3 linked regions of the Homo sapiens genome follow. The protein of the gene in region 3 purifies or fractionates together with the protein of the main gene of each other region. This does not show direct contact. Each region holds a gene or a part of one and is shown on either strand. Other genes may lie near its edges.

The links.
Region 1: the proteins of ZFP91 (region 3) and CLTA purify together in Homo sapiens (co-immunoprecipitation; one large-scale study listed by IntAct). This does not show direct contact.
Region 2: the proteins of ZFP91 (region 3) and ECD purify together in Homo sapiens (affinity purification with western blotting; one study listed by BioGRID). This does not show direct contact.

What each region holds. Positions count from the first base shown.
Region 1 is NC_000009.12:36,207,874-36,210,351, reverse strand, and holds part of CLTA (clathrin light chain A), read right to left. Parts: exon of another isoform or gene 1,798-2,478; intron 1,086-1,797; coding exon of another isoform or gene 1,032-1,085; intron 1-1,031. UniProt on the Homo sapiens protein: Clathrin is the major protein of the polyhedral coat of coated pits and vesicles.
Region 2 is NC_000010.11:73,161,432-73,165,090, forward strand, and holds part of ECD (protein ecdysoneless homolog), read right to left. Parts: intron 2,520-3,659; 5' UTR 2,507-2,519; coding exon 2,302-2,506; intron 1-2,301. UniProt on the Homo sapiens protein: Regulator of p53/TP53 stability and function. Inhibits MDM2-mediated degradation of p53/TP53 possibly by cooperating in part with TXNIP. May be involved transcriptional regulation. In vitro has intrinsic transactivation activity enhanced by EP300.
Region 3 is NC_000011.10:58,606,563-58,610,221, reverse strand, and holds part of ZFP91 (E3 ubiquitin-protein ligase ZFP91), read right to left. Parts: intron 393-3,659; coding exon 183-392; intron 1-182. UniProt on the Homo sapiens protein: Atypical E3 ubiquitin-protein ligase that mediates 'Lys-63'-linked ubiquitination of MAP3K14/NIK, leading to stabilize and activate MAP3K14/NIK. It thereby acts as an activator of the non-canonical NF-kappa-B2/NFKB2 pathway.

The sequences.
Region 1 (2,478 bases), on a different chromosome or scaffold from region 3:
ATCTGGGGGCCCAGGAAACCCAGTTCTATCTTCTAAGGGGATGAACATCTCAAGGTCATAGGCCCTGAGAGGCTCTACAGACCTGAGCTCATCGCCCACCTTCCACAGGTTCCTCTCCTCTTCCATTCCACCCTTACTTCTCATGTAAAGCCAGCCCTAATTTTTAAGGAGGAGACAATGAGAACTGTTTCCAACTCTTCAGCAATACTGCTTTGATAAAAGAAATCCTTAAAAAAAAGAAAAAAGAAAAAAAGAAAAAAAAAAGAATAAGAAAAACACCTTCTCCAGAGAAGATGCAGGTTTCTTTTGGGGGGGTCAGGGGGAGAAGCCCAAGTGGCCCGTATCAAGACACTTTGACTATCCTGATCTCAAAGCTGGGGGCTTCCCTGTGCTAGGAGACAGGACATCAGAAGCTGACCACTAAATAGCAATTTCTGACATGCAAGACCACAGAGGAACAATTATAGACACCCACTGGAGACAACCCCCTCTGCTCTGGACTCTTCTGCCTGAGGGAGAGGCAAACGACCCCACATTGTTTGAATGAACCAAGTATGGAAAATGCTGCCCCACAGCTCTGATTTTGGCAATGCAAGGTGCTGCTGCTCACTGGCTCCTAACCTCCTGGGACTGCCACCTGCTCCCAGGTGGGGAAACCTCCTTCCCACCTGAGGCAGGCAGGCAACAGGGCATGGCAGCAGTGATGGCAGCCAAGAGCAAGAGAGCAGAGTTCCCCCGAGCCTCAAACCGTTCCCAGATAAGATCGCAAATGACACATTTTGAAAGCGAGTTAGCTTTCTTCCCTCCAAAACCCCAAATATGAAAAATGGCCATCAGAGGATGCAGGGAGTCACAAATCTGGAAGATTCATCAACAGATCATACCCCGCTTATCAATTCTTAGGCAGCCCCCAAAGTGCCAATTTGAAATAATTTAAAAAGCAAAGCAACTTGTGACATAAAAGGAGCATTAACTCTAAACAAAAGTAGAAAGAATCAGATGTAGAAAAAGGAATTAGTTTTGCAACATACACATAACCAATCACGTCAGCGAAGGGTTGTTTGTAGAAAGCTTCATCTGCCACCCTAGACAGCAAGAGGTCCAAAAGGCAGGCAAGCAGGCAGGAAAAAAGAGAGAACATTGAGAAGCAGAAACATCTAAAATCCACAATTGAGGTACAACTGTGCTCTGAGGAGCTGCTCCCAAGGCTCCTTCCTAACCCCCGTGAGGCTTCCAGCGCTGGAGACTTCAGCAGGCCTGGTTTCCCGCTGGCCTTCCCACGTGGGGACTGCTCCACGACAGAGCAAGCACTGCCAACTTCATCCCTTTGGCTCACCCCAGCAACACGGGCATTTATTAAGCACCCAATCATGGACTAAGCCCTTTCACATACATTATGTTGATTCAATCCTTAACTGTTAACAACCTATGACCCTGACTGTTCTCACCCCCACTGTACAGATGAGGTAACTGAGGCTTAGAGATGAACAACTTGCTCAGCTACACCACAGTGGCAGCATTCAGGACTCACAACCAAGGCAGCCTGGCCCTAAGTCCAGGGCTCTTTCTACTGTATAGTCATGCTTCTTCCCTGCTGTATGTGCCCAGAAAGCCACGCCACCTTCCTGTTTCAGTTAATGCACTGGGCAGGAATGCTGCCAGACACCAGATGCGCTAGGACCCAAAGCCAGTTTTATCTTGGATTATCTAACTACTGCTTCCCCACACTGTCTGGGTGGGATACACTTCCAGAATCCTGGGAACACATATCGTCATTTTAAAATCTCAACCTTACAGGAAAAAACGGCTGGAGGTGAGTGGTCTGGTGGGAAGAACACTGGACTAGGATCCTGGCCCTGGCTTCTGTTGTTCCTGAATATGGCTCTCTCTCTACTCAAGAAGCGGGTACAGTTTCTGAATATTTTTACACCAGACTCAATTGGCTTTGATAAGGTGCAGCCCAGAATCCAGAACTTCATCCCTTCTTAACTCTCAACATGGCAGGGCTCTCAGACAGGAAGGAGGGGGCAGACTGGGTGGATAAATTTTGACAGCAGGGGCCAGGCTGGCTTTGACTCTGTTGTCCTGGACTGACTCCCTGGGCTCTGCCAGCCCACTCTTCTCCACTGTGGCTGGACATGGAACCTCCCTCATGGAGTCTTACCCTGTCCTTTGTCAAGTCGATTTGGGGTGGGCAAGGGGAAAGACATTTTTCAAGGATAATCATGCCTGGTCATTAAGCTAACCTCACATACTTATTTGAAGGCAAATTCTAGTAATTTTAAGTTAATTTTTAAGCTCACACATGCCCTTCCTTCTTTCCCATTTTGTTTTATACACAGGAGGTGTTTTGTGGAAATTTAAAGAAAGCAAAAAGAGCAGGCTGATTATAACTTAAAGTGACTCAGCAGGAAAACAGAGTTGTTTGTGGGCAGAATGAGTGGGAGGAAAAGGCAAGGCAGGCTGGCTTATAAACCC
Region 2 (3,659 bases), on a different chromosome or scaffold from region 3:
ATACCAGTAAGTTGGATAACCTATAAGAAATTGACAAATTCCTAGAAACACAACCTGTCAAGACTGGATCATGAGAAATACAAAAATCTGAACAGATCTATAACTAGTAAGGAGATTGAATCAATAATCCAAAAGCTCCTAACAAAGAAAAGCTGGCTTCACCGGGGAATTCTTCCAAACATTTAAAGAATTTGACACCAATCCTCCTCAAAATCTTCCAAAAAAATAAAAGGGAGGGAATTCCCAAATTCCTTCTGAGGCCAGCATTACCCTAATACCAAAGCCAGACAAAGACAATATGAGAAAGCTGTAGATCAATATCCCTGATGAGTATCAATGCAGAAATCCTTAACAAAATATCAGCAATCTGAATTCAACAACACATTAAATAGATTATTCACCACGACCAAGCGAGATTTATTCCTGGGATGCAAGGATGGTTCAACACACGAAAATCAATGTACAGTTAATATCCCACATTAACAGAATGAAGGTCAAACAAGTGCATTACAGAGTGTCTCAAGAGCTGCCATGGCAAACAATAGGTAGAAGAACAGCCCAACCAACTCTTCTTCTCCCCACCCCAGATCTCAAGTTTCTTCAACTAGAGAACTCCAATTAAAGTAACTATTTTTGTCTATATTAGACTTTGATTTAAATTTCATCTTGAAGCAATGGGAACTACTGAAGGATATTAAGCAGGAGAGTGACACAATCAAATTTGTGTTTTACAAACATAACCAGCAACAGTGTTAGGAACTAGAAAGACAGGAACCAGAGAGGTAAGTTAGGAGGCTGTTGTTGTTTTCCAGATGTAGAGATAAAGAGGGTCTACACTGAAGCCAAATAGATGTAGAGAAGGGGTCATATTTTAGAAGCATTCAGGATTTAGCATCTGACTGAACATGGTGAAGTGAGGAACTGATTATGATTTTGAATTACTGACTAGCTTGGATAACTGGGTGGATGGCAATGCCATTAAACAAGATAAGAAAACAGTAAAAATGGTTTTCTAGAGGATGGATAAAGGGTTGGTTTTAGATGTGCTACACCAATGTGACAGTGTTCTTGCCAATAAATATCATATGTATTTCAATGAATAAGAGTTCAATAAAATTAACAGTAAGATATGTAGCAATTGTTGCCAAAAGATAACAGATACGCACTAAACTGAGAGTATCACAGTGATGTATACTTGTGATGTATACATGGGGGGTATATCTTGTGATGGTATCACAAGATGCCAGGCTCCTGATCCCAAATAAGACCTCACATAAGTCACTGTGTAAGGAGAGACTTGGTCACCTACCCATGATTTATTTTCATAAAACTATAAGAAATGATAGAACTGTAATGTGACCAGTTCCCCACCAGACTACTTAAGGGTATATGTCTGCTGCTTAAACTTCAAAGGCCAGCTGGCAAGCCAAAGCCATCATGCCTAGCAGAGGAGCAGGTCCTGAGAACCCAAACATTGCAGGGCATAGCTGGGAACATACCAAGGAAAACAGTGTCATTGCATATACGCAGTAGGCAAAGAGCCAAAAAATTAGCTTACTAGCAACTTAAATATGGGAGGTGGGGTGGATTTCTAGAGCTGTCCTGATGCTGCCCAGGAGTGTCTTGTCTGTAAGTCCTAATAAACTCATCTACTTGCCAAGATAGACCTGTCCGAGTCATTCTTTGGTCTCTCCGCTCCCTCCTAGTTTAATCCTGGGTTTTTCTCATAACAGGACAGAGTGCCATATTTTGCCAGAGGTCAGATCTCAAGCACCAACAACACAGGGAAGCAATGAAGAAACCTCAAAATGCTTGTAAGTGGCAAATATTAGTCATAAAGCCCAATTATTTATCTTTATAAGCTGGGCAGAGCCACTCAGATCCTCACCAAAATGGCTATATGAAACAAGGCAGCCTACCAAACACATCACCAAAATAAGGAATCCTGAGTAACAGCAAAAGGAACCATGATTAAAGCCAGATGCCTGAAACTATTTAGTATAGATACTTAGATACATTATGGCATAGTGTAGTAACTAAAGTTCAAAAGAATAGCCATGAGTTTAATAATGTTTAGTATATGCTAATTCCTAAGGCAAATTTAGAAAGTTTTCATTAATATGATTTTTTTTAAAAAAAAGCTTTAAGGCTAACTGAATATAGACAAGTATTACTCATCTAAAAAGTTTAGTGTATTAATCTCTTCCTGGCAACACTGAATGAAGCGTGGACTATTACACATCACTGTTGTCAGGATAACATTAAAAGTCACACTAATCCAAACAAGTAAAAGAGCCTTACCTTTCCCAGGTTTATATTTAAGATTGAAAGGCTGATTCTGCCAGATGTAGGGGACCAGCATAGGTGCAAACCGAGTGATTATTCTCTCAATGTACTTCTGAAGAATCTCTTTATGTTTATCTGAGTCCCTTGACTCATCTGGTATCAGGAACAGGCAGTACTCCACTGTGTCTTCCATCGTAGCAAGCTTCATGGTTTCTTCCATTCTTCTTTGAAAACTATGTTTAAAGTTCCAAAATATAAACCACATAGAACAATGCAGAAGTAACATCTGAACTCTTTTAGATGGTTCTATGAACACTGTTTTCTAAAATTTAGTTAGGCCGGGCACAGTGGTTCATGCATGTAATCCTATCACTTTGGGAGGCCGAGACAGGCAGATCACTGGAGGTCAGGAGTTTGAGACCAGCCTGGCCAACATGGTGAAACCCCGTCTCTACTAAAAATACAAAATACTAAAAATACAAAAATTAGCTGGGTGTGGTGGCATGCACCTGTGATCCTAGCTACTTGGGAGGCTAAAGCAGGAGAATCACTTGAACCTAGGAGGCAGAGGTTGCAATGAGCCGAGATCATGCCACTGCACTCCAGCTTGGGTGACAGAGCAAGACTCCAACTAAAAAAAAAAATAAATAAAAATAAAAAATAAAAAAATAAAATTTAGTCACATACCATCACCATGGTTTTGGCCTTAACCATACACCACCTACAGTAATATTTATTTAATTTTTTTAAACTTTATTTATTTATTTGAGATGGAGTTTCACTCTTGTTGCCCAGGCTGGAGTGCAGCGGCATGATCACAGCTCATTGCAACCTCCACCTCTTGGGCTCAAGCCATCCTCCCACCTCAGCCTCCCAAGTAGCTGGGACCACAGGTGCATGCCACCATGCCCAGCTAACTTTTTTTGTATTTTTAGTAGAGGCAAGGTTTTGCCATATTGCCCAGGCTGGCCTAGAACTTCTGAGCTCAAGCAGTTCTTCCACCTTGGTCTCCCAAAGTGCTGGGGTTATAGGCATCTGGCCTAATATTATTTTTAATGACCCTTTACACTTAAAACTTTATCTTTAAAATTACGTTAAAAGGAAACCTTGATATAATACAGTGAATAGAAATCTAGTATCACATTCCCCAATTAGTAAGTATGTAAGAATAAAATCTTTACTTTTTATATTTTTCCTATTTTGGAAGTGAAGAATGAAATTTTTAATGTTTGCCCTTGTACTAGCAGTGGTATGTGTAATATATTTCGAGAAACACTGCACTAACACCTACTGTTTACATACTATCAAAAACCCCAGTTCTGCCACTAATTAGTTGTGCCACTATGGACATTTCACTTTCTCTTTCTGGGTTT
Region 3 (3,659 bases):
AATCAAATTACTGCATGGGGTAATTATACAAAAGCAGAATATCTGCAAACTGTTCAAAGAAATACCACCTACACCATCAAACCTGCCCCTGACAGTTAAGCTGTTAACACAAATGTTCAACATTACATTTAAAATGTAACAGCAACTAGTTAGTAAACAGCCATATTCTAGTTGCACTGTACCATAATCAAGTTGGTCTGTATTTGGTTCTGACTTGCAAATGAGCTGCAATGAACCGGTCTTGGACCGAGAGCTTCGGGTGTTCTCTGTATCACGATGGCGAGAAACAGATGTCCTACTACTACGCCAGCCCCGGCTAGGTCTAGATGCAGCAATGGAAACTTCCTGAGGGAGGGCAGAATCGTCTTCTTCCTCTTTTTCTTCCTTGGGATCTAAATAAAAAGACATACCATTCTCTTTAAGTTTACAGTTAACCAATAACCATCCCTGTATATCTACTAATTGTAAATACAGTTGAAGATAAATTAAATATTTTCAAAGGAAAAAAAACTGAAGACTTTAATTGAAATAATAAAAAAAGGAAAATGAGATAAAACTTATCCTTAATGTCATCATGCTAAAGAAATTACTTCATGTTGCAAAGTAGTAATTTTATACTGCCTTATCTTCTAAAAAATGCAATGCTAACTATGCAAAATACACTTAAGTAACTGGATTCATGAAATTCTACCTTTTAGATCTAAGTTAAAAGAAACTAAATTAATTAGTCCCAAAAAGATGACCAGAACTACAGAGGCACCAAAAAGAAAGAACCATAGATCTAGATGTTATTTACAACCAAACAAGTCTATAACAAATTACTAAAGAGGAATTCCTAACAGGAGTACTTTTCACTCTAATCAAGAGTTTTTCTTGGAACCACACCATAAATTTGAACTAATCTATAGAGCAATTGAATGGTAAAGTCCAGCTCTGGTGCTATTCTGTTTCAGTTGTCCTATAAGACATTGTGTACAGGAGCACACACAAATCTGTTATTGTTATCCTATATTTTGTCATGTTTTAAGGGTGAAGTACGGTAGGTCATCCTCTCTTGAGTAGTAAGTAATAAAAAGTTAATCTCAGAAACTGGCTTTCATACCTGGCGTAGCTAAATACTTAGACCTATATAAAAAAAAAGTACATTAGAATTGAGCCCATTTTAACAATAGAAGATTCTTTAATAAACTCAGAACGGGAAAGGCCCAATAATAAAACAAAATTTCAGGTCATAAGATACACATAAAAACAATTTTCCTCATGGCAAAAATCAACCATAAACAAAGTCTAATAACCCAATAGAAAAATAGGAACTAACAGGCCGGGCTCAGTGGCTCACACCTGTAATCCCAGCACTTTGAGTGGCCAAGGCGGGCAGATCAAAAGGTCAGGCGTTTGTGACCAGCCTGGCCAACGTGGTGAAACCCCGTCTCTACCAAAAATACAAAAGGTAGCCAGGCGTCGTGGTGCCTAACTGCAATCCCAGCTACTGGGGAGGCTGAGGCAGGAGAATCACTTGAACCCGGGAGGTGGAGGTTGCAGTGAGCTGAGACTGCGCCACTGCACTCCAGCCTCGGCGAAAGAGCAAGACTCCATTCCAAAAAAAGAAAAAACAAAAAACAAAAGCTCAAAGCTCAATCCACTCAGAACAAGAGACTCAAATGAAAACGATAGCATGACACCATTTTTCATGTATCATATTGGGGATGATCATATTTGACAACATAATGTATTGTCAAGACTGTGGGAAAACAGGTCCTCTAACACACATATGATAATGTATTAGCAAAACCTCCATGCAGACCAATTTGACAATATACATCAAAATTATAAATGTATATACCTTTCCACATGATGTTCAACTACTAGAAATTTATCCTACAAAATTACAATCATATTTATAAATGATTAACATATAGCACTGTTTTTAAGTAGTAGAAGAGTAGAAAACAACATTCAAAGAGGGATTGGTTTCACAAATAATTGTGTACATATGTAAGAGAGAGATATATATGTAAGATATATATACACACAAATATATAACTTATGAAACCAATCCCCCTTTGAATGTTTAGTTGTCTACTCTTCTACTACTTAAAAACAGTGCTACACATTAGTCATTACAGTATGTGTGTGTGTGTGTATATATATATATCTTACATACTATAATAACATTTCTGGAAGAAGTACAAGAAATTCTTAAGTACTGGTTACTTCCAAGGTAGGTCCAAAAATATGTGTAGTAATTTCACCTTTAAGTATATGCCCTAGAAATATAAACTACCACATGGAGGTTAACTGTATTATGTTTATAATAGCAAAGAACAGAAACAACCTAACCCTCTGTCAAAGATAAAGTGCTTAAATAAACCATGATACCTTAGTATGATTGAATACTATATAGAGGTAGGTTTATGTTAAAAATGACATGGAATTATCAGCAAAAATATTGTTAAATGTATAAAAAAGACACAAAACTATATATACAGTATGGCAACATTTTTGCTTAACATTAAAAAATAGTTTACTATGGAGCAATGTGGTGACTATAGGCTATTTTAGCTTTAATTACACTGAAAGTTTTATGACAATATACTGAAGTAATGAAATTAGTTTGAAACACAGAGATAAATAGCAGTGCGAACAGTTCTAAACAACCATCAAAATCAGTTGTGCATTTCCTTTCAGCTGTCTTTTTCCATTCATTATTGCATCACCCTCCTATCTGAGCTATTTTAATAGAAAAAATAAAAAATAAAACATTAATATAGGTGAAAATACCTCAAAGGCCATTCAGTCTAAGCACAATCCATTACGTTTTACCCATAAAGTATCTGGAAGCCCAAAAAAGAAGCTTATTCAAAATCACAAGGTTAGCTAAGGACACCTAGATTTAGAAATCATATTTTGAGATTAATAATGAAGGACTTTTACATATAGGTCATGACTACTTTTAAAACAATTTCATCAAAAAGAACAATTCAACACCACCTATGAAGTATTACAACATTTAATAATAGACACATCTTTTTTTTCCTTAACCCAACTGTACCGAGTTGGACTTTGAACTCACTCCATAACCTCCTGTCCTCAACAAAGCTCCTTTCTTCTTCATGATGAAAGGATGGTATGCCCACAACCTCCTATACTGTAGATTTTACTCACTGGATAAATGATGCCAATTTGATAACAATAGTTTACCATTATGAATAAGGCATAATAGCCTATCTTATTGAATACTACTGCTCCCGTCCCCTAAAAATCTAGTCTTAAAAAAAAACCACTCTGTCAGAGATGACAGCAAAAATGTCCCTCCACAGAAATAAACACATATCATGAACAAACACTGTCAGAATCAACTTTGTGGAAACTCTTAACAATAGTTAAAGGTTATAAAAGCCAAGTGAGCACTGAATCAAGAAAAAGGTGAGTAAAGATGTTTAAGGAAATCTGTCAAATCACTTGATGAATATAAGCGAAAGGACCAGAACCTTTAGAGACCACAGAGACCAAAGTAGGAGCTAAACATTAGGTACTCATGGACATAAAGATGGCAACAACAGAAACTGGAGATTATTGGGGGGAGGTTGAAAAACTATTGGGTACTATGCTCAGTACCTGCATGATGGGATCATTTGTATCCTAAATTTCATATCATA